7 linked regions of the Homo sapiens genome follow. The protein of the gene in region 7 interacts with the protein of the main gene of each other region in a pairwise test. Each region holds a gene or a part of one and is shown on either strand. Other genes may lie near its edges.

The links.
Region 1: the proteins of PRKAA2 (region 7) and ZBTB8A interact in binary tests that used the Homo sapiens proteins (3 or more experiments, as listed by UniProt).
Region 2: the proteins of PRKAA2 (region 7) and RFX6 interact in binary tests that used the Homo sapiens proteins (3 or more experiments, as listed by UniProt).
Region 3: the proteins of PRKAA2 (region 7) and SOHLH1 interact in binary tests that used the Homo sapiens proteins (3 or more experiments, as listed by UniProt).
Region 4: the proteins of PRKAA2 (region 7) and HOMEZ interact in binary tests that used the Homo sapiens proteins (3 or more experiments, as listed by UniProt).
Region 5: the proteins of PRKAA2 (region 7) and DNAAF6 interact in binary tests that used the Homo sapiens proteins (3 or more experiments, as listed by UniProt).
Region 6: the proteins of PRKAA2 (region 7) and USH1C interact in binary tests that used the Homo sapiens proteins (3 or more experiments, as listed by UniProt).

Annotation. Positions count from the first base shown.
Region 1 is NC_000001.11:32,542,427-32,545,926, forward strand, and holds part of ZBTB8A (zinc finger and BTB domain-containing protein 8A), read left to right. Parts: intron 1-3,500. UniProt on the Homo sapiens protein: May be involved in transcriptional regulation.
Region 2 is NC_000006.12:116,929,242-116,932,661, forward strand, and holds the end of RFX6 (DNA-binding protein RFX6), read left to right. Parts: intron 1-2,089; coding exon 2,090-2,265; 3' UTR 2,266-2,920; downstream 2,921-3,420. UniProt on the Homo sapiens protein: Transcription factor required to direct islet cell differentiation during endocrine pancreas development. Specifically required for the differentiation of 4 of the 5 islet cell types and for the production of insulin.
Region 3 is NC_000009.12:135,696,682-135,700,976, reverse strand, and holds the start of SOHLH1 (spermatogenesis- and oogenesis-specific basic helix-loop-helix-containing protein 1), read left to right. Parts: upstream 1-1,495; 5' UTR 1,496-1,509; coding exon 1,510-1,574; intron 1,575-1,850; coding exon 1,851-1,982; intron 1,983-2,500; coding exon 2,501-2,648; intron 2,649-3,349; coding exon 3,350-3,471; intron 3,472-4,171; coding exon 4,172-4,295. UniProt on the Homo sapiens protein: Transcription regulator of both male and female germline differentiation. Suppresses genes involved in spermatogonial stem cells maintenance, and induces genes important for spermatogonial differentiation.
Region 4 is NC_000014.9:23,276,133-23,279,632, reverse strand, and holds part of HOMEZ (homeobox and leucine zipper protein Homez), read left to right. Parts: intron 1-2,445; coding exon 2,446-3,500. UniProt on the Homo sapiens protein: May function as a transcriptional regulator.
Region 5 is NC_000023.11:107,209,611-107,213,110, forward strand, and holds part of DNAAF6 (dynein axonemal assembly factor 6), read left to right. Parts: intron 1-3,262; 5' UTR 3,263-3,265; coding exon 3,266-3,418; intron 3,419-3,500. UniProt on the Homo sapiens protein: Plays a role in cytoplasmic pre-assembly of axonemal dynein.
Region 6 is NC_000011.10:17,523,917-17,527,416, reverse strand, and holds part of USH1C (harmonin), read left to right. Parts: intron 1-85; coding exon 86-194; intron 195-376; coding exon 377-401; intron 402-606; coding exon 607-664; intron 665-975; coding exon 976-1,070; intron 1,071-2,881; coding exon 2,882-2,966; intron 2,967-3,500. UniProt on the Homo sapiens protein: Anchoring/scaffolding protein that is a part of the functional network formed by USH1C, USH1G, CDH23 and MYO7A that mediates mechanotransduction in cochlear hair cells. Required for normal development and maintenance of cochlear hair cell bundles.
Region 7 is NC_000001.11:56,713,575-56,715,835, forward strand, and holds the end of PRKAA2 (5'-AMP-activated protein kinase catalytic subunit alpha-2), read left to right. Parts: 3' UTR 1-1,761; downstream 1,762-2,261. UniProt on the Homo sapiens protein: Catalytic subunit of AMP-activated protein kinase (AMPK), an energy sensor protein kinase that plays a key role in regulating cellular energy metabolism.

The sequences.
Region 1 (3,500 bases), about 24 Mb from region 7:
ATTAGCACACAGTGGCAGGCACCTGTAATCACAACTACTCGGGAGGCTGAAGCAGGAGAATCACTTGAACCTGGGAGGCAGAGGTTGCAGTAAACCGAGATTGCGCCACTGCACTCTAGCCTGGGCGACAGAGCAAGACTCCGTCTCAAAAAAAGAGAGTTGATCTTCTCAACGACAACCTTAGTTCAAGTTACACTCGCTACTTAAATCTTCAGTCTACTCATAGAAATACATGTCATTGGCTTCTATTCCAAAGACTTTCGAACTTAATGGTTCCTAAAATGTGTAATTGTCTTTCCCAACCACCTTTTTAAAGATCATTGAACTTGATGGAAATCTTGAATTCTGTTATATTCTTGGGACTATTATAATATTTAACTCTTACAGATATTTAAAATGTTTCCATTTGGATTTTGGATGTCCCATATAAATTGATCTAACTTGCTGTTTCAACGTATAAAGTCACTCTACTGAAAGAAGAAAATCTGAAATGCATTACCGATTTCCATGACCTAATCACATAATTCTGAAAATAACTTAAACCTTTTTTGATGACTCAAGAGTACTACTATGAATGCATGTTATGTTAAAATCCTTTCAATGTGAATATCAGGTTGTAACTGACCCCAGTGTATAGGACAATTCCTATTTTTTTTTTAGATATAACTTTTTTTGAGACGGAGTTTCACTCTTGTTGCCCAGGCTGGAGTGCAATGGTGTGATCTGGGCTCACTGCAACCTCCGCCTCCCAGGGTCAAGCAATTCTCCTACCTCAGCCTCTCAAGCAGCTGGGATTACAGGCACCTGCCACCATGCCCGGCTAATTTTTTGTATTTTTAGTAGAGACGGGGTTTCACCATGTTGGTCAGGCTGGTCTCAAACTCCTGACCTCAGGTGATCCACCCGCCTCAGCTTCCCAAAGTGCTGGGATTACAGGTGTGAGCCACTGCGCCTGGCCTGAGATATAACTCTTACGCCATAAAATTTACCCATTTTAAAGTGTACAATTCAGTTTTTTGATATGGTCACAAAATTGTGCAACCATCATGACCCTCTTAACTCCAGAACATTTTCATCATTTGCATAAAGAAACCCCATGCCTGTTAACAGTCACTCCTATTCCCATGTCTCCCTAGCTCCTGATAACCCCTCATCTACTTCCTATGTGGATCTACCCATTCTGGGCATTTCATGTGAATAAAATCATAAATAAAATATGTATTTTTTATGACTAGTTTCTGTAACTTAGCATCAGGTTTTTTGTTTTTTAGACAAAGTCTCGTTCTGTCACCCAGGCTGGAGTGCAATGGCGCGATCTCGGCTCACTGCAAGCTCCGCCTCCTGGGTTCACGCCATTCTCCTGCCTCAGCCTCCCGAGTAGCTGGGATTACAGGCACCTGCCACCATGCCCGGCTAATTTTTTGTATTTTTAGTAGAGACAGGGTTTCACCGTGTTCGCCAGGATGGTCTCGGTCTCCTGACCTCATGATCCGCCCGCCTCGGCCTCCCAAGGTGCTGGGATTACAGGCATGAGCCACCACACCCAGACTTGTTTGTTTTTTAGAGACAGGATCTCACTGTCACCCATACTGGATTGTGGTGGCGTAATCCTGGCTCACTACATCCTTGACCTCCTGGGCTCAACCAGTCCTCTGCCTCAGTCTCCCAAGTAGCTGGGACTACAGGCTCACGCCACCGTTCCCAGCCAGCATGAGGTTTTTAAGGTTCACCCATGTTGTAGTATATACAGTCATATGTCACTTAATGATGGGGATATGTTCTGAGAAATGTGTTGTTAGGTGATTTTTGTTGTTGTGTGAACATCATAGAATGTACTTACACAAACCTGGCTGATATAGCCTACTACACGCCTAGGCTGTATGGTATAGCCTATGGCTCCTAGGCTACAATCCTGTATAGCATAATACTATAGGCATTTGTAAAACAATGGTAAGTATTTGTGTATCTAAACATATCTAAACACAGGAAAGCTGGGCACAGTGGCTCACGCCTGTAATCCCAGCACTTTGGGAGCCCAAGGTGGGTGGATCACCGAGGTCAGGAGTTCAAGACAAGCCTGGCCAACATGGCAAAACCCCGTCTCCACTAAAAGTACAAAAATTAGCCAGGCATGGCGGTGGGTGCCTGTAATCCCGGCTACTCAGGAGGCTGAGGCAGGAGAACTGCTTTAACCCAGGAGGCGAAGGTTGCAGTGACCTGAGATGGTGCTACTGCACTCCAGCCTGGGGGATAGAGCAAGACTTTGTCTACAAAAATAAATAAACAAATAAATAAACACAGGAAAGGTACAATAAAAATATGGTATTATAATCTTATGGGACCACCGTCGTATATGTAGTCAGTTGTTGACCAAAATGTTATGCGGCGCGTGACCATATCAGTACTTCATTCTTTTTATGGCCGAGTTACATTCCATTGTATGGGTATACCACATTTTGTTTACCCACCTGTCCGTCAGTGGACATTTGGATTGTTTCCACCTCTTAGCTGTTGCAAATAATGCTATTATAAACATTCGTGTATCAGTTTCTGTGTAGACGTATGTGTTCATTACTCTTGAATATATACCTAGGAGTGAAATTGCTGGGTCATATGATAACTCCATGTTTAATCATTTGAGGAACTCCCAGACTGTTTTCCAAAGTCGCTGTACCATTTTATATTTCCACCAGCAGTGTGTGAAGGTTCTTACTTATCTATACTCTGGCCAACACTTAGTATTTTCATGTTTTTTAAAAAATTATTATATCTCTGGAAAAACATGGAAAAAAAAGAAAATATAGAAAAAGAAGAAGAAAAAAATTTTAAAAAATTATTGTAGCAAACTATCCTAGTGGGTGTGAGGTAGTATCTCATTGTGATTTTGATTTGCATTTCTCTAATGATTAATGATGCTAAACATCTCTTCATGTGCTTATTTCTATTTGTCTTATTTAATCTTATTTATTTTAGCGATTATCTTATTTAATCCTCTTAACAGACTTCCTTAGAGCCTCTAAACAGTCAATAACCTCATTTTACAAAAAGGAAACGAATGCTTAGAGTTAAGTAACTTGACAAAGTCACACAGCTAATGATTGGTAGACCTATAATCCTGTGTTTCTTCTTTTTAAAATCCTTCAGAAGTGCCTCAGAACCCCCAAAACTGGAGGGGCTTCCAAGATCTAGCTCTTACATACTTTTCTAGTTTCATCTTCTGCCATCCTTCTGTAGGCCCACAGTCTCTAGCTATAGCAAACTTCTTACCATCCCCTAGGAGGCCATGCTGTTTAATACGCTGTTTTTGCCTTCCCATTTGGTGCTCTCTCTGGCTAGAACGCCTTTTGCCCTCTTTCTCATGTATAAACTTCTTTTCATCCTTCAAGACCCAACCTAAACGTTGAGCCTTTTGGAAATGTTTCTCAATACTACCAGGTACAATCATTTGCTTTCTTTGTTTTACAGTTCCCTTCTACTATGAGTATTTTCTTCATTGTATT
Region 2 (3,420 bases), on a different chromosome or scaffold from region 7:
AAAGATTAATATGACCTGTCAAATGCAGTCTAAAACTGTAAGTTTTAAAAGGGCAGTAATAATATCCTTTTCTCACTCTTGATTAGTGTTGGACCCAGTTGTAGTGCCAAGAGATATCTTTAGGCCTCATGATCTCCATCAGTATCCAAAAATCACTCCAAGATTAAAAAAAACTGGTGTCCTGTGATGGGTGCTACTAGCATTTTCTCATTCTTATGTAAAATGTGATTCAACACCTCTGTAGAAAATGTTGCCATTTTTATTGCTCTCTAACATATCATGTAAGTAAAAATAAGAAAAACGTGTGCTTGCCGTGAAGCCTCCTGGAATCTTCTTCCAACCAGGTTACATTTCTTAATCCTCATCTATGAAGAAATTCTGCAATAATAATTAGTATGTTATTAGTAATAACATAGATTTAGTCACTATAGATTTAGTTTCTAAAAATACTAATAAGATTTCACAGGGCAAGTATATATTCACTAAGTATCAAAGCAGAGTGTTAATATTTATATGAGATGGTTAAAGTCTTCCAATGAGATTGATTTCAGACTAGCATAAGTAGAGGGCATTGACACGCAACCAGAGCATAAGGGAAAATGAAATCAATTTCATCTCTCCTCACTCAGTGTACCTTCCCAATAATTCAATAGGAAGTACTCCTTCTCTTCCTGTCACTGTCACACATGCTCCCTGAGCAGAATCTAGCAGCTCATCTTCTGCTATCTGCAAATGGTCATTGCTTCTAGGTTACTCTAATGAAGCAGAAAATTCCACTTCAGGAAGTTTTCTCACCATGAGACTAAAATGTACTGTGTTGCTATTGTTACTATTAGTTCTGTTTACCTGAAGAGATAGTGGAAGCTTTGACGAAACATAGGTTAAGAGTAGGGTGGAGTCTAAGCTTTAGTTTATCAGAGCTGGCTTACAAGTAGATTACAAAGTGTGCTGCAGGGTAAAATGAGGGGATAGAATAAGTGGATAAGTAGTGCAAGGAGAATTGAGTTCAACTATTTCTTAAGTATAAAGCCTGGTTCTTAGACAGAGAGCACGTCATGTCAGCAATAAGAAGGCAGCAACCATATATGAGAGAAATACAGGGCTAGTGAGCCAGTTAATGAATTTTATTGAGAACCGACTAGGAGCCAGACCCCATTCTAGATGTGAGGATATGGTGGTGATCAGGCCATAGTTCTTGCCTGTAAGAAGTTTACATTCTAGTAGAGGGACAGTAAGGCAATAAATACATGAGCAAATGCATTAAAAAGATAATGTCAAGTACTCTGAACCTGATTAAATAGAGTAAAATGACAGACAGTAAAGGAGGAGCTGCTTTCGGTAGGACAGCTGAGAAAGGAATCCTGAGGCAGAAACATTTGAGTTGAAAGCTGAGTGATGAGAAGGAGGCAAAGATGTGAAGATCTGAGGGAGGAGTTCCAGGCAGAAGAAACAGTGAATGCAGAACCGCTGAAATCAGAATAAATTTGAAAAAATCAATGGGCAGAGAGCAGGCCAGTGTGTCTTAAGCATGTTGAATGAAGGAGAGAGTAGAGCAAAATAAATAAAAAATCAGGGGCCCATCTACATAGGGTAAGATGCTTGGTTCATGTTCCAAGGGTATCGGAAGCCACTATGGCATTTGAGACGAGTGAAAGTTTGATCTACTCTTCAGCAATATCATTCTGGTTGCTCTCGGGAAGGTGAGTGGGTGAAACAAAGGTGGAGATCATGGGACCAGTCAGGAGGCTGCTGTGTTGGTCCAGGAGAGAAAAGATGGTGGTTTGAACTACAACCGTGAAAGTGCAGATGGAAAGAGGAGGTTGATTGGGGGATATATTTTGGCGGTAGCACTTAAGTTGAAATGGAGTTTTCTTTGTGAAATATGTAGAGGAAATAATTTCTGGGAGACTAGCAAGTGGGAACAAATGGAAGAAAAAATGATTGCTCTGGTAAACCATACAGACTCAAATTTAGAATAGGTATGTGTGCTAAGTGCAAAAATAAATACAGGGTATTAAAATGAGTGGCATTTGCAGAGAAAAGAAAATGTCAATCAATTTTCAATTGCTGATTATATTTTCCCTTACAGCTTCCAGTTTGCAAACCCCAATTCCTTCTTCCTCATCCCAATGTATGTATGGAACTTCCAACCAGTATCCAGCTCAAGAAACCCTGGACTCCCATGGAACAAGCAGTAGAGAAATGGTGTCCTCTTTACCACCTATCAACACTGTGTTCATGGGAACAGCAGCTGGAGGCACTTAAACCACCAATGTGGGAGGGGGTGCTAAAACTTTAAAAAAAATCTCTACTGTGCAAATATCATTATTCACTCAGACTTCCATAAGAGTAAATAAAAATGAATATGCAGTGGCTGACATTGTTTTAAAGTCACTGGTACTATGGACAACTCCATAGTGAATGGAGATACTTGCAGAGCTTGTCATGCACACTAAGAGTTTAAAATGTGAGCTCATTATTAATCATAGTTTCAAAATTATCAAATAAAACCAGTGAAGATCTGAAGATGCAAACATTTCAACTATGAAGATTTACATTTCACTTTCTAATTTATTAAACATCTGTGTGCCTTTTTATCTTTGGTTTCTTTTAAAAAGTATATTTAATGCCTTTACAATACCTTTAATTTATTAGGATCTCAGAATCATTGTTTACTATCCCTTATTTGACAAAAAGTCAAATGTGTATGTTCTACCTCCAACGGAAATGTTTACAAGGTCAAGACTTAATTCAATTCAGACAAGACCAAAGTTGCTTGACTTCAATTCCTGTGCATTAGTGTGATGATTTCTGTCACATAGCAGCATTCCGATTCTATGTAACTGAATGGAGATGATAAGTGCTTTCCCCTCTTTATTTAAAAAAGATTAAAAGGAATAAAAGAAATAATGTATGGAAATATTTTTAAAGGCTTGGTGCTCTTGGGGCTGGTACTGTTTCTGAAGAATGCTGGGGATTTACTCTTTAATCTCAGCTCCTTTGGAAATGAGATTAAGGAGTCAAGTAGTGTGGTTAAACACTATAATTTAAAAACATTTGCATATCATATCCATGCCTATACATATAAAGAAATTGTGAATTGTAGACTATTTGAACCTTTTCAGATTTAGAAGCAGTCTTTTACCAAGTACTTTCTTATACATTGAAAGTCAATGAGTGTTCAGGGATTAGCTAGATGCAAAGCCTAATTCAGAAGTGAAGGAATCATTACATATAAATTAATACAATTTGATAACACTATCTATCTTTCTACCTCTGTTTCTTTTTCTTTTCCATATGTCTTCACTGAAAGGTCTGTTGTAAAGTTCCTGGCCTGTGGTAGGAGACTTCCATAAACTTTACAGGCTTCTCCTATAGTCTTATGACAAGCCTCATATTATTTGTATTAAGGATTAGGTT
Region 3 (4,295 bases), on a different chromosome or scaffold from region 7:
AGCAGTAATTACACGTGTTGTCAACGGCAGGAGAGTCACAGGTTTGATGACATTCCGAGGGCTTTAGGGAAACAAAAACTTGGCCCCACTCTGCCACTGAGGAGCCCCAGATCGCCAGCCCGTCCATCCCTCCCTGGCCAGGGGCAGGGCCGGGAGAGGGGCCCAGGTCCCCGAGAGCTTTTGCCCTCCTCTCCAACCCCGTCCTCCTCCATGTCTGACCTGCAGCCAAGGCTGGGCGGAGCAGGGATGGAGACACCACCTTATATTACATAACCTCCCTCTGCTCCAAACACCCTTCACCCATCTTTGGCCCAAAGTCCAGGATGCCAGCCCGAGGCCCAGAGCCGCGCCTTCTCCACAGGAGACTGGGGCACCCCGGACAGACGTCCCCGTGTGGTGGCACCTGCCCGGGCTCCTTCTTGCCTCCCCTCTCGGGAGGAGAGCCCCTGCCACCCACCCCACCTCCTCCCGCTACGACCTCAGCACGAGCCAGGCCAGGGATGTCCTCCCAACAGTCCAGCCTCACCCCCCACCCTCGTCCCCTCTGCTTCCCTGAGGGCCCCCCGCAACCTCCGTGAAAGAGGAAGGGTCTCCACCTCCCCCTTCCCTCCGTCATCCCCCCAAAAGTATGTACTGGGGGACTCAAGCCCAGCGCAGGGCGGCTCCTGGAGTTCAGCGGGGAGGTGAGCAAACACCTGGCGCCGGAGCTTTCTGAATTTGGATGGGCAGGACCCCCGCGATCCCGCAGAAACCTGTTGAGAGTGTGAGGTGAGGGGTCGAGCTGGGGCCCCAGGGCATAAAGCGGGGATGGTGCTTGGGCAGGGCCAGGTGAAGGGACAGACGGTTCCGAGGGTGCCCGGCAGAGCTCAGCGGGAGGAAGAGCACGGACGATGGTGGCCTGGGGTGGGGACAAGATGCCCCTGGTTCTGGGCGACCCAGAAGTGTGGATGGTGACCCTACCCTGAGGCGCAGCGTCTGCAAGCGTACTAGATTTGGGGGAAAATGGAGGCGTGGGCGACTGGGGAGCAGGCGGGTACCCTTCCCCCTCCCTGTGTCCCTGGGTCCCCCAGGCCTGGGCTAAACAACTCAGCCCAGCCCGCCCACTCCCACCAGGGGCTGGGCTCCTAAGGGCAGAGCCCGCATCTCCAAAGTGCCCAAGGGCACCGAGACCACCGCATAAGTGGGAACCGAGGCGACCCCCGGGAAGGTAAGGGTAGAGGCAGGGCCACCTGGGCTGGGGCCCCTTCCCCTGGCGTCCTGCGGGGGCATAGAGTGGGTGGACCCCCCGAGTCCCTTTCCAGCACCTTCTTTGCAGGAACGCGGGTCACGTGGGCCCCGGGCTGGCTGCGTGGGGAGGGCTAGAGCGCATGCGCTATGGGGGCGGATTGCAAGTGGGGGTGGGGTGGGCTAGGTGGAAAGCACGTGGCAGGTGGGCAGAGCACACGTGAGGGGGCGGGGCTGCCTGCGGAAGGGGCCGTGCGCGTGGGGTCGCTCCGCAGCTGCGAGTTCATGGCGTCCCGGTGCTCCGAGCCCTACCCGGAGGTCTCCAGAATCCCTACCGTCAGGGGATGCAAGTGAGGAATTGGGCTGGCGGCCAAGGGGTTGGGGGCCCAAGGCCTGTACCCAGGGGTTCTTCCGCAAGTTGCTGGGCTCCACCCATCCTGGGCCTCCTGGGGCGGAGCCCTGGACCCTGGGAGAGGGGAAGGGGTGCAGAGAGGGCCGGGCCGTGTCCCTACGTGACCCAGTCTTGGCTTCCACCCGCACCCCAAAGACGCCCATTCTGGCATCTGGGACTCCTGGTGGCCTTTTCTGGGGTTCTCAGGGCCCGGTGCTCTTGGCTTTCTCGGCAGCGGCTCCCTGTCTGGTGCCCTCTCCTGCTGCGAGGACTCGGCCCGGGGCTCGGGCCCGCCCAAGGCCCCTACGGTGGCCGAGGGTCCCAGCTCCTGCCTTCGGCGGAACGTGATCAGCGAGAGGGAGCGCAGGTGAGTGGTGGTGCCTCCCAGGGGTGAGGGCGCTGTAAAGGGGTGGAGCGGGTGAGATTATGTTCGGGGCTGCCACCAGGTGTCAGGCAGCTGGGAGGGGCTCGTGGCCTGTGCCCAGGAGAAGGACAGACTGCACATCTCCAAGTAAACCAGAAAAGCCCTGTTGGGGAACATCCTGCAGCCCCTCTTTATCCTGAAGCCTTGGCCTCTTGAGGCTGTGCACCTGTGACCCTCTGTGCTTCTGACTGCCTCTGACCCTCGCTGTCTTTTCCACACCGCAAAGCAGCCATGGTTTGGGCCTGGGCTGGACAGCCTGTCGCCGAGGTCCAGGGGTCAGGCCCAGGCTGTGCTCTGATGTGGATCTCGGGGCTTCAGACCACGGGGGCAGCTCTGAGTCATCTTGTAGCCCCCTCTGCCTGACAAGCGCCCAGGGTCTATCTGGCAGGTTCTAGCAGTTGCTGTCCCTTCTCGGGGAGGGCAGGAGGGCCCAGAGGTATTTGTTTCTTGACCGGAACCAGGAAGCGGATGTCGTTGAGCTGTGAGCGTCTGCGGGCCCTGCTGCCCCAGTTCGATGGCCGGCGGGAGGACATGGCCTCGGTCCTGGAGATGTCTGTGCAGTTCCTGCGGCTTGCCAGCGCCCTGGGGCCCAGTCAGGAGCAGCACGCTGTGAGTTGTAAGGGTAGACGCCGTCAGTCCTCCGGCATCACGGTGATGGGACATCTCACCACCTTGCAGGCAGTGTGTCCCCTGTCATCCCCGTCTCCTTCAGCCCTCTGGGTCTCCACGGCTAGAGCAGGCCACGTTTTCGGCAGGGCACTTCCTGATTTGTTCAAGCCTTACCTGTTGTTATTCTGTTCCTGGAAAGGAGCAAGCCTTCCTTTCCAGCCCTCCTGTGCCCCTGAGTCCTGTTCATTGATGGGTTGCCGAGATGCTCCGTGCCAATTTGGGGGAGAGTTGGGGTCTCCTGATCCTCCCTGGCTGAGCACCCCCTAGATCATTTCTCTGCACGTCTCCAAGAGAGAGGCTCCTCTCCCCTCTCCAAGGCTCTGGGGGCTCTGGCTGACCCCGTGAGTGCTGGGGCTGAGGACCTGTGTGGGGAATGAAACTGTGTTGTCATCTGTGAGGTCAGGGGTCCCAGCATTTGCAGTGAGGCCCTTGGGTATGCACAGCCTGATTCAGGAATGGTGGGGCCTTTCGGGGGTGGAACCTCAGCCTCGTTGTCAACCTGTACTCTCGCCCCCAAGTTCCAAGCGGGGACCGAGCTCACAGTGACCCTCCAGGCCCTGGGGTAGCAGTCTTGTCACCGTGTCTTGGGTTTCTCAGCTGACTGTCTCTGTCTTTGTTTTACATGTTTACTTAAATTTCAGATTCTTGCTTCCTCCAAGGAAATGTGGCACTCGTTGCAGGAGGATGTTTTACAGTTGACGTTGTCGAGTCAGATTCAAGCAGGTGTGCCAGACCCTGGGACGGGAGCGTCCAGCGGGACTCGGTTAGTGTCTCCTGGGGCCCGCTCTCCAGGGCTGGGTGACCCTGGGAGCAGCAGACCCAAAGCCCCCTGGCATGTCCTCGGGAGGGTGTGGCCTGGAGGCCCGGCTTGGCCTCCGCAGGTGGTGACCTGCCCAGGGCCCTGCCAACTCAGGTGGCCAGGTGTGAGGTGACCAACATGGGCGAGCTCCAGCAAGGGGGGAGCGCGGTCAGCAGAATTGAGGGCCTGGGCTGGTGTGGAGGTGGGAGGTGCCCGGGAGGATCTCTTCTGCTCCTGTGTGTGGGGAATTTACAGGTGGTCAGTGAGGTGTCATACTCCTCCCCATGGGCAGCTTCAGGAATGCAGTTTTCTGAAGTCAAGATAATTTGGTTCTTTTCAGAATGGCAGCTCCCCAGGTTGAAGGACTGTCTGCATCTTGTGTTTAAATGTACCCATTTTACCCCAAAGCAGGCTGGGGCATGGGACTGGTGGCTAATTAGCTGTGGAAGAATCTAGAACCGGAGGAGTTGGGCAGAGGGAAACTGGGTAGACAGCTGTGGAGCTTGGCTGGCCCAGGGCCCCTGGGCAGAGGCTGGCTTGATGCTGGGTGGTGCCTGGGGTGTCCTGGGGATGGGTCCAGCCCTCTGCTCTTGGGGTGGGTGGGGGCAGCCTTCCAGGGGGCTGGGGAATAGACCCAGGATCCTTGTCATGTTGCTCCTTCTAGAACCCCAGATGTGAAGGCGTTTCTGGAAAGTCCTTGGTCCCTGGATCCAGCGTCGGCCAGCCCAGAGCCCGTGCCGCACATCCTTGCGTCCTCCAGGCAGTGGGACCCCGCGAGCTGCACGTCC
Region 4 (3,500 bases), on a different chromosome or scaffold from region 7:
TATGTTCAATTCTTTGCCTTCTACTTTTAAACTTAACTTCCTTGTAAAGCAACCTTTTTCGATCACCTGCTCCACCCTGACTCATTCCGATTACCTGCTCTGCCCTGACTCATTCTCCACCCTGACTCCTTCCGATTTCCTGCTCTGCCATAACCATTTTCCCCACCAAACCACTCACCCGGTCACTCTCTTTAAATTAGCCAATCGGAATTAGTTTAGCCTGTGCGGTCTAACCCTAGCCAATATGGGAATGACAGCGGCAGGGGCCACCTGTGTCAGGAATAAGAACTTCTTCCCCTCTTTTGTCCAGGTGTGTGCTCACCACTGCTCCATCTATGAGGGCGCACCCTTCTATAGAAGTAAATTGCCCTACTGAGAAGAAAAAAAAAAGAAAATTTTATATTCGATTGCTATTTCTTTTGTGGCACCGAAACTTTATTTATAACAATAGTGAAACTTCGTCTCTACTAAAAGTACAAAAATTAGCTGGGCATCATGGTGCACGCTTGTAATTCCAGCTACTCAGGAGGCTGAGGCAGGAGAATCACTTGAACCCGGGAGGTGGAGGTTGCAGTGAGCCAAGATCACGCCACTGCACTCCAGCCTGGGTGACAGAAAGACTCTGTCTCAAAAAAAAAAATAGTTATTAACAATTCTGGCCAGGCGCCGTGGCTCACGCCTGTAATCCCAGCACTTTGGGAGGCCGAGGCCGGTGGATCACTTGAGGTCAGGAGTTCGGGACCAGCCTGGTTAACATGGTAAAACCTCGTCTCTACTAAAAATACAAAATGTAGCAGGGCATGGTGGCACACGCCTGTAGTCCCAGCTATTCAGGAGGCTGAGGCACAAGAATCACTTGAACCCAGGAGGCGGAGGCTGCAGTAAGCTGAGATCATGCCACTCTACTCCAGTCTAGGCAACAGAGCAAGATCCTGCTCAAAAACAAACAAACAAACAAACAATTCTGAGGGCCGGGTACAGTGGCTCACTCCAGTAATCTCAGCAGTTTGGGAGGCTGAGGTGGGAGGATCACTTGAGGCTAGGAGTTTGAGACCAGCCTAGGCCACATAGTGAGACCCTGTCTACAAAAAATTTTAAAATTAGCCGGATATGGCTGCATGTACCTGTAGTCCTAGCTACTTGGGAGGCTGAGGTGGGAGGATTGCTTGAGCCTAAGAGTTCAAAGCTGCAATGAGCCATGATCATGCCACTGCACTCCAGCCTAGGCAACAGAGTGAGACCCTGTCTCTTGAAAAAACAAAAACAAAAATGCACACACACACAAACCAGTTGAAATTATTGCTCCTCTTGTTTTTGTGGTTGAGTCTTCACTATGTGATTCTTGTTCCATGAATTTAGAAGGTGAGAGTTGGTGGATAGCTTCTAGAAGTGGGTTTGAATAGGAAAGATAAAGGCTGTATCAGAGCTATGATGGTGCCACTGCACTCCAGCCTGGGTGGCCTGGGTGACAGAGCAATATTATCTCTTTAAAAAAAAACAACCCACCAGCTGGGTGTGGTGACTCATGCCTGTAATTCCAGCTTTGGGAGGCCAGAGGCAGGTGGATCACGAGGTCAGGAGTTCAAGACCAGCCTGGCCAAGACGGTGAAACCCCATCTCTACTAAAAATACAAAAAGTAGCCGGGCGTGGTGGCGGGCACCTGTAATCCCAGCTACTCGGGAGGCTGAGGTAGAGAATTGCTTGAACCTGGGAGGTGGAGGTTGCAGTGAGCCAAGATCATGCCACTGCACTCCAGCCTGGGCGAGAGAGTGAGACTCCATCTCAAAACACACGCACACACACACAGACACACACATACACACTAAAAAAAGCTATATCAGGATCAGTTTTCCTTCTTAACTTCTAAAGACAGATTTTTTTTTTTTTTGATAGGGTCTCACTCTATCACCCAGGCTGGAGTGCAGTGGTGCAATCATAGCTCACTGCAGCCTCAACCTCTCAGGCTCAAGCAGTCCTCCTGCCTCAGCCTCCCAAGTAGTTGGGACGACAGGCACGAACCACCATGCCCAGCTGATTTTTAAATTTTTTGTAGTCTCACTGTGTTGCCCAGGCTGGTATCAAAGCTCTGGGCTCAAGCAATCCTCCCACCTCGGCCTCCCGAAGTGCTGGGATTACAGGCATGAGCCACCATGGCTGGCTTTAAAGACAGATTTTTTTCTTGGAACAACACTCACCAGTCATGTGGCTTGGGGTAATTTAACGTCTATGGACTTTGGTCCACAGAAAATGGGAATTAAAGCAGGGTCTGATGACTTAAGTTTATGAAAATTAAATAAGAAATTGTTGAGGCACTTAAAAAGCAATACAACATGATACAAATACAGATTAAATTGTTCTGGTGTCCAGCAGTTAGTTTGGTAGAAATTGAGCAGTGTGTCAGAAGAGGAGACCCAGTGATTGAGCTGTTTGTCTTCTTATTGCAGCTATCTCTGAAGGGCACAAATCAGAAGGCACCATGCCTCCTAATAAAGAGGCCAGCGGTCTCAGTAGTTCACCAGCGGGGCTCATCTGCCTCCCTCCAATCTCTGAGGAGCTACAGCTTGTGTGGACGCAAGCAGCCCAGACCAGTGAGCTAGACAGCAATGAACACCTGCTCAAAACCTTCAGCTACTTTCCCTATCCCAGCCTAGCAGACATTGCCCTTCTCTGCCTACGTTATGGGTTGCAGATGGAGAAAGTCAAGACTTGGTTTATGGCCCAGCGCCTCCGCTGTGGTATTAGCTGGTCATCTGAAGAAATAGAAGAGACTCGAGCCCGAGTAGTCTACCGTCGGGACCAACTCCATTTCAAATCCCTTCTCTCTTTTACTCATCATGCGGGACGGCCCCCAGAGGAGGTGCCTCCTCCTCCAGTGCCAGCTCCAGAGCAAGTTGGTATTGGAATAGGTCCTCCAACTCTTAGCAAGCCTACCCAGACGAAAGGATTGAAGGTAGAGCCTGAGGAGCCCTCTCAGATGCCACCACTGCCACAGAGTCACCAGAAATTAAAGGAGTCCCTGATGACACCTGGCAGTGGAGCATTCCCCTACCAATCAGATTTTTGGCAACATCTTCAAAGCAGTGGCCTCTCAAAGGAGCAGGCAGGCAGGGGTCCCAACCAGTCACATGGCATAGGTACTGCTTCCTGGAACCACTCCACAACCGTCCCCCAGCCACAAGCTCGGGATAAACCCCCACCAATTGCATTAATTGCCAGTAGTTGTAAGGAGGAGTCAGCATCTAGTGTTACTCCCTCTTCTTCCTCTACCTCTTCTTCTTTCCAGGTACTGGCTAATGGAGCTACTGCCGCCTCTAAACCCCTCCAGCCACTAGGCTGTGTCCCACAGTCAGTGTCACCCAGTGAACAGGCATTACCCCCACATCTGGAACCAGCCTGGCCCCAAGGGCTACGGCATAACTCAGTACCAGGTAGAGTTGGCCCCACAGAGTACCTTTCCCCAGATATGCAACGCCAGCGAAAGACCAAGCGCAAAACCAAA
Region 5 (3,500 bases), on a different chromosome or scaffold from region 7:
TTTAGTAGAGTCGGGGTATCGCCATGTTGGCCAGGCTGATCTTGAACTTCTGACCTCAGGTGATCCACCCACCTTAGCCTCCCAAAGTGCTGGGATTACAGACGTGAACCACTGCGCCCAGCCCTGCTTGGTGGTTCTTTATCACCCTGATTTTATTTACCATATATACTTGAATTAATAAAATCTATTATCTATTTGAATAGTCTGTAATTCAGAGTTTTCACTAATTTAACCTAGACTTTTCTACAATTAACTGATGTCAAAAGCCATCTTTATTGATACTGTGAAGGAGACAAATAAAATAGAAAGCATGATCCCAGCCTTAGAACCAGTCTGACTTTAACTCAAGGTTACTGATGTTGCTTAAGTGCTGTGGGTCTGGAGCCAATCTGGTTGAACTTTTTCAGCCCCTGACTGGCTCCAGTGTTATGGTAATGAGCTGGTTCTGGAGTGTCAGTTGCTTTAGCTCATTGTGGCTAGTAGATGGTCCAATCATGCCTCTATTTATGAAGACCCCAAGTACTCAGGTTAATGTGGGAAAATCAAAGGCTCTGTCTGGAAAATGTTGCCATTAGCATTGGCCTAGCAAAAGAGAAGGAGAGAAAGAAAAACAAAGGGCCTAAAAAATTTATTTTCTAAATACAAATCTCAAATAAAAGACAGTAATATATTTTGTTTTTACTGAAACTCTTAAATTTTCCTTACTTTAAGTTTATTCTTGGCCTATTTAAGTGACAGTGCCAGATTCAAACATTTTAGGCAGTGTGGCTCCAGAATCTTCTTTTTCATTTTTTATTGTTATTATTTTATTTATTTATTTATTTTTGAAACAGGATCTCACTCTGTCTCCCAGGCTGGAATGCAGTGGCCCGATCTGGGCTCACTGCAACTTCCATCTCTGGGACTCAAGCAATCATCCTGCCTCGGGCCCCTGAGTAGATGGGACCACAGGGGCACACCACCGCGCCCGTCTAATTTTTGTATTTTTTGTAGAGTCGGGGTTTCGCTATGTTGCTCAGGCTGATCTCGAACTCCTGAGCTCACGTGACCCGTGAGCTCACCTTGGCCTCTCAAAGTGTTTGCATTACAGACGTCAGTCAGCCACCATACCCGGCCAGAATCTTCTTTTTAAAAATCGCTACACTGTACTATCCAATAAGTCAGGGCAAAAGGAAGAATGCACTCCAAGGTACAAAGGCAGGAAATTATAGAGTATGTTTAATAAGCAGTTTAGTTTTTAACAGAATATGTAGGAGAATAATAGAAGGGAAGGACAGAAAATTACGTTGGGACTATATCCTGAAGGACCTTGATTGCCAGACTCAGGATGAACTTAAATGTATATCACATTTAGAAATAAAAGATAGAGCTATAAACTAACACTGCATAGTTCATTGTAGTGAAGATAGTTCCCTACAAATAGTTCTTTGTAGTTCCTAAAAAGTCCTCCTGTTTTAGTTTTTCAGCTGTGATCCACTTGTGTCAAATGAATTTTAATAAATGTTTTTTAATAAAGTTGAATAAGTTATTCTAAATATGTTAGACTTCTTAAAAAGCTAGTAGAATCTTCCTTTCCATTGAATTTTGAATGTTTTTTTCTAAAAATTCACAAACTGTTTTTCTCTTTTGATACTTTGAACCATTTAACTAGTTAGTCACAAAATATTTGGGATTCTTTTGTTTATCAAAATACAATATCAACAAACTTGTCATGATTGATTTATTTATTTTTGTTGTCATGATTTATTAATTTGTGTTTACAGATTATTATTACATTTGATATGGCAAAAATATTTTGGCTAAAGTGGTAATTTTATTATTATATTTCTATTTTAATTGAGCTATAGTGCAAATCTATGGCATTTTATTCCAGCATAATTTGGAAGTCCAATTGTACTTTAAGAAGTCTAACTCCTAATATGCTTCAGATATATAAAGTGTTACTAAGAATTATTGTGAATAATTTAACAAAAACAAGTGTACACGTTCCAAGGAGGACCATCCCCTTCGAAGTAGTCACTTTAGGAGACTAATCTATTTACTCTAATGTTGTTGTTATTGCTAAAATTGCTTTTGAAACTTCTGTTTTAGAATCACCTTGAGGCATGTAGCACATTCTTTTGAATATCCTCAAAGAAGAAAATCTTCATATTTTGAAAGTAGACATGATATCTAAATATATCTAGAAATCACTTGGCGACAAATCTGATGTGTAATCAAACCAAATGATACCATAATGATACCATAATGATACCTATTTTCTTGGTGATACATATGAAGGCAATTCCAAATAAAAAGAAAAATCCCAAAATATTTTGAGCATTGATAGCATAATTTACATCAGTGTATAACCTTCCAAATGACTATTTTGAAATATAACATTCAGATGAATTTAGTCATGCTTCATTTGGTATTAATCAACTGCTGACTATGTGCCAGCTGCAGTTATTAAAGACACTAAATCTACAGGTATAGCTTCCCACTGCTCACACTGGCCTACTTCCCACCTAATGAGAACCAGGCCAGAGTTCCTTTCCAAATAACTGGTAGGGATTCAGAATTAATCTGGTTTTTCTGAATCCAGTATCCAATGTACCAAAGGAACCATAACATTCCTTCATAACCTCCACTGTGGGTACCTAGGTGACACGAGAAAGCCACCGACACAGTGCCTGGTTTGTTTTCTCTTTTCCAGCTGGAACTTTGAGCCCTATTCTGCCCTATTCTGAACCTTCATCTCTAGTAGTCAACTTGTGCACAAACCTCAAGAACTGTACCCCACCTTCTATAGGCCAGCGTCCTTCTTCACTTTAAATAGGTCTCCCTGTAACCATGACTTCAACCTTTCTGCCCTGAAGCACTGCTCATGTCTAAAAAATATGTTCCCAAATGATGATACATAATGTATCATACACTTTTTCTAGAGGTAGGGCTTAAGAATCTGCATTTTAAACCAACTCCCCCAAGTGATTATTAAGCACATTAAAACCCGAGAACCACTATACTAGGTGCTCAATAAGTGCTTGTTAGCTTGAGTATGACATTTTAGTAAAGCAGGCTGAATGTTTGAGTTTACTTGGTGCTCCAGGTCTGTGAGTTAGCAAAATACATATATTTGAAGGAGTTTAAAAGGATTTCCAAGGAAGTATAAGAACCAATGGAGTGATCCAGGGAAAGAAGGGAGATATGACAATAAAACATCTTCATGTCTTAAATAAAACAGAAAAGTAAAATACCTCTTTCTGATTATCTTTTTCTTCAGATAATGGAATCTGAAAATATGGATTCTGAAAATATGAAGACAGAAAATATGGAATCTCAAAATGTAGACTTTGAGAGTGTTTCTTCAGTTACAGCTCTGGAAGCCCTCTCTAAGCTACTTAATCCTGAAGAAGAGGATGATTCTGACTATGGACAGGTGGTCATATACTTAACAGTTGAATTAGTTTTGTTCATGGGAAGTTGTGGAACTGTATTTGAATAACCTGTTCCCACCTAGC
Region 6 (3,500 bases), on a different chromosome or scaffold from region 7:
CAGTCCGGGAGCATCTGGTGGTGAGTCTGCCCCACTGCCTGATGCTCCCTCCACCTGGTGCTCCCTGCCTCTCTCTGTGGTCAAGGTAGGGGACGAGATCGTCCGGATCAATGGATATTCCATCTCCTCCTGTACCCATGAGGAGGTCATCAACCTCATTCGAACCAAGAAAACTGTGTCCATCAAAGTGAGACGTGAGTGAGGCCAGAGCAGGGCAGTACTCCATGACGGTGGGAGGGAGGGAGGGCGGGGGAGCAGGGCAGTACTCCATGACGGTGGGAGGGAGGGAGGGCGGGGGAGCAGGTCAGTACTCCATGACGGTGGGAGGGAGGGAGGGCGGGGGAGCTGTCCTAACCCCTGTGCCTTTCTCCCGCAGACATCGGCCTGATCCCCGTGAAAAGGTGAGAGGCCCCTCCTCTGCAGGCCAACTCTTCCCTGTGGGCCCAGGATCCTGGTACAGCCCTGGGGTCCGGCTCCCACCATGCCAGCCCTGCTTCTGGGCCAGTGGAGGCTGGAGGCTCTAGACATGGTGGATCTGGATGTGGGGCCTGGTTCCTCAAACGTCTCTCGCTAACCACCCTCCCATCTATTTTCCCTTCCCATCAGCTCTCCTGATGAGCCCCTCACTTGGCAGTATGTGGATCAGTTTGTGTCGGAATCTGGGGTAAGGGCCAGACCTCCTGTGATGGGGTTTGGGTGGGGTCATCTTCAAGGAGGGGTGGCCGGTCCTGAAGGGAGGGCTTGCTCTAGAGATGCACCCTCAGGGGCTTCACACAGGCTCCCAGGGCAGCCAGCACACCGCTGTGGGGCAGCAGCCCTCGGCCAGGCCCAGCTGGTGCAGACACATCCCCAGGGACGGAATGATGATCTGGCTGGCGTGAGTTCAGCAGTGCTCGCCCTGCAGATCCCACAAGCTCAAGAGGCCGCTTGCACGCATGTGGACACTCCGTGATTCTGCTTCTATCTCTCTTTCAGGGCGTGCGAGGCAGCCTGGGCTCCCCTGGAAATCGGGAAAACAAGGAGAAGAAGGTCTTCATCAGCCTGGTAGGCTCCCGAGGCCTTGGCTGCAGGTGGGTGGCAGGCATGCCCTGGGGTCATTCGTGGCCAGTGCACCCCAGCAGGCCCCTATTGCCCTCCCCTTCCTCACTGCCACTTCCGAGGAAACCTTGCCCACCAGGGGTGTGACTGTCCATGGGTGATGATACTTTTTTTGTTAGATACAGGGTCTGACTCTGTTGCCCAGGCTGGAGTGCAGTGGCATGATCATAGCTCACTGTAGCCTCAACCTCCCCAGCTCAAGCAATCCTCCCACCTCAGCCTCCTGAGTAGCTGGATCTACAGGAACACACTGCCATACCCAGCTAACTTTTAATTTTTTTGTAGAGATGGAGTTTTGTTATGTTGCCCAGGCTGGTCTCAAACTCCTGGGCTCAAGTGATCCTCCCACCTCAGCCTCCCAAAGCCCTGGGATTAGAGGCATGAAGCACCGCACCCAGCCTTGGTGTTGACACTTCTTGGTGCCTGATTTCCCCTCTGAACTTCATGACAGGCCTTTAGGGCCAGAGGGTCATCTCTAACAGAGCCCAATTTACAGATGAGGAAATTGAGGCCCAGAGGCAGAACAGTGTTACCTTGTGGGCCCTTGAGTCACTGCAAAAGGAGCCTGTTTGGCTGGTCATCTCTGTCACAGCTCTCTTGTCACTTATTAACTTGTTGGCTTCCTTAAGAGGCAGACAGGGAATTCCGAACAGACACTGGGCCACACGGGGCTTAAGCATGCAGGTGCCACCGTTACTCAGATCCCAGTTCCAGCCCTGCTTTCCCACTTAAGAGCTCTGGAACCTTGGGCCAGTTACTTAACCACTTTGAGCCTCAGTTTCTCCCTCTATAAATGGGCGATAATAATTCCCACATCACAGGGTGGTTGTGGAGAAAGTAAAGTGCCAAACTTAGTACCTGCTAAATAGTAAGCAGTTGGTAAATATTAGCTATTATTATTTAAGTTATCCCTGTTCTTTCCTTTCATTCACATTTATTCAATGTTTTGTGCCAAGCACAAGTGATAAAAAGTCCCACCTTTCTGGGAGACAACAGCCTAATCTAGAAGCCAACCAAGTAAATAGTTATAATATAGGGTGATAGGGACTCGAACGGGACTACATTCTGCGTCCAGGATGGCAAATAGGTGCCATCTCTAGTCAATGAGTAGCAGCTCCCTGGAGTGCTGCTTTGAAAAGCATTCTAAAGCTGTATCCAGGATTGTGGGAAAGAGTGCTGTGATCAATGAGTGACTTCTGCCACCAATCTAGGAAGGAATACTAACAGTACATGTACCATCCTTGCCGTAAATGTCATAGGAGCACTGAGAACAGAGCGGCTAGTTTAGTCTTGGGATAGAATAAGGGATCTGAGCCAGGCATGGTGGTGCACACCTGTAGTCGCAGCTAGGCTGAGGTGGGAAGATTGCTTGATCCCAGGAGTTGGAGGTTGCAGAGAGCTATGATCACACCACTGCACTCCAACCTGGGTGACAGAGCAAGACCCTGTCTCTAAAAAATAAATTTAAAAAAATAAGAGGATCTGGTAAAAACCTTATAGAAGGGATAGCATTTGAGTCTTAATGGATGGACAGGAAAGTGCTAGAAAGAAAGAAGAAACAGCATATGAGGTATATTAGGTGAGAGGTTGGGTAGGAAGAATTACAAGGATTTTTCTGTGGCTGTTGCCCAGGGTAGCAGTAGAAATCAGGCTGGAGAGGGACACAGAGGCTGAAGAGGTAGGCAGTCAAGGGCCTTCAGTCCTCAGCTCATGAGTGACCTGTATCCTGAGCACTGGACATGGGTTACCTGAATCCCGAGCACACATTTCCCACCTCCCGCAGCATTTCCAGCGGCCCCATCCAGAAGCCTGGCATCTTTATCAGCCATGTGAAACCTGGCTCCCTGTCTGCTGAGGTGGGATTGGAGGTGAGTGACGCTGGGCCGGCCCCAGTGGGGGCCCACTGGAAATTGGGTCAGACTGTGATCCCGCGGTGACAGGGGCAGGTGCCTTTCCACATGGCCCTCTTTCAGTGGACACTGAGGGAGTAGGAGCCCTACCCACCCTGCAGAGAAGGCTTCACAGACTGGGGATGTTTGACCCTTCTGCAGCCTTCCCCAGCTCTGATAGTTGTTGGTCACGAGCTTGGGAATGTCGTAATGGTAATCAAAGAGCGGACCTTCAGTGTCCACTTGCATCAGACATTGTTCCATGCCCTTTACACTTCACAAGAATGCTGAGGGTTAAGTACCACCATTATCCCCACTTTACATATGAGGAAACTGAGACCCAGAGAAAGTATATGATTTTTCCAAAATCGTGTACCTCATATGGTAGGGCTGGGATTCAAACCTAGGTGGTCCAATCCCAAAGCAGGAACCCTTAACCTCTTCTTTGGACAAGTTACTTCATGTCTGTTTGCTTACCTGTAAGATGGGGATAATACAGGCTTTCTTCCAAGG
Region 7 (2,261 bases):
TTTTGAATAATACGTAGAATTTTGACAAGGTTCATACAGTGCATACAGTGTGACCTTTTCTGAGGTGGGCAGGGAGGGTTGCTACGTTGTGTTGATTTAAAATTTCAAGGAGGAACAAAAACATTCTAGCCAAGGAGAATTGCATTGTTATTTTTTTTTCTACTAATTTAAACGTGCATTTTTCACAGTTACACATTTAAGTTTTGCTACCAAAAATGGCCATTTTTCTAGACAGATAACATTTTCCTAAAGTGGAAGAGAGATCCACTGTTCTAAAAAAAAAAAAAAAAAAAAACACTAAATTGTGCCTTCTCCCTTAAATTATAAGAAGAGTAATAGTAAAAACTTGTTTAAACTATATTTTCTTTTTTTCTAATCCCTCTCAGTTCTCCTTAGATCTGCCTCCTACAAATGATCATGTTGTTTGCATCTGCCTGATTGAGTTCCCTTGGTCAAACCTCTCCCTATCACTATCAGAAGTTGTTCACTAAATGTATTTTCCTATTTCTTTCATGTTGATTGACTTTATAAGTCACCTTGGTAAACATAACATTTGGCTACCTTCTCATGCTTTATAAATGAATTTGATGAATGGCAGTTTTTATATTTTAACCCTTTAAAAAGTTTGTCAAGGAAACAACTCAGAGCTAAGAACAAAATCTAACTTGGAATCAGTTTCTTCCTTTGGCTGCTGAAGCAGCAGCAAGTCACGTAACCTCATTTAGTTTTTTGATTTACAAAATGTGGATAATAACCTACCTCACAGATGTGTGTGAGCAACTGTTTGAAAGCCCTTGTTTAAATACAGGGTTTATATCCCCACATTCAATGTAAATTCCTTTTTTTAAAAAAAATAAGTATCTTTGATACTGATAGGATGAGTATCTTGATTTTTAGGTAAGATCACAGTTTCACAAATTGTGGTGTTGTTAGGTGACATTTAATATTTCTTGAGACCTCAAGTATTCAAATATCAAACTTGTCCTGTGTTGTAACAAATATTCAGAATCTCTTAAAATGTTGGCTGAAGCTGCCTTAATGTACCAAAATACAGCTCTCAAGACTGTTCACAAATATCTGTGGTTGTACAATGTTTTGAACATTTAATGTAAAGTTGTTGTAGAACTGTGAACTCTAAGGATAGTATCTTTATTGTTTTAGGAAGAATGGTTGTGTTCTTTGTCATGTATGCTTAAATATACAGTGGATTTTGAATGCAACAAATAAAACTGAAAACAGCCATTTGGTTGTGTCATGACAATCATAATATAGGATATAATATTTACTTTTTTTCAAAAACATCCTGCATTCATTCATTCTTAGCATACCTTTGAAAAAGAAAAAAAAATCCATAGGTTGATACATTGACCCATTGAAGTACTTCATTACGTATTTATTGAAAATTTTTTTTAATTGTTGAAATTGGGACCACTTTTTATAATTGGTTTCAAGAAAAAAAAATGAACAGACTTCCAGTGCTTTTCTGTTCAAATAAACTCCGATTCAAATTTCAGTTTTGTTTGTTATATACTTTTTGTGAGTGTTAAATGATATGGGAAGGATTTGTCTTTCATTAACCATATGGAAAAGATGTCTTCCTGAATTACATAGCATTTCATAGTTACAGATTCTTCCTAATTAATGTTTGCACCATATGAAACTCATAGGTAACAAACACAAAGGAGAAAAGCAGCCTGTCTGATTGCTTATAAGCTTTTTTCACAAAATCAAATTAAAAGTCTCTGATTCATTTGAAAGCTATTTTTGTTTCTGCTCCATCATTATGCTGGTATTCTGCACACCAACTAATAGTTACAGGAAAGTTGTTAGTGGAAAAGATTGCCTATACTCATTGGTGATTTCACACCATCTTTTTTCATTTTTGTCATCTTAGTTGTACATTATAGTTTTTAACTTGAGTTATTGCATTGGTTTTCTACTGTTGCTGTAACAAATTACTACAAACTTAACGACTTAAAATACAAATTATTTTATTGTTCTATATGTTAGAAACCCAGCAGGCTTAGCTGGTTTTTCTGCCTCAAGTCACACAAGCTGAAAACCAAAGCATTGATAGGGCTGGGCTGTGGAGGAGAATCTGTTTCCAGTTGCATTGAGTTGTTGGCAGAATTTCATTCCATGGTGCTGTAGGATTGAGGTCCCTGTTGCCTTTTTGGCTGTTGGCTAGGAATCATTTAAAGCTTCTAGAGGCCATCATCCCTTGGCCCTTGGCTCCCTTCATCTTCAAAACCAGCAACAAG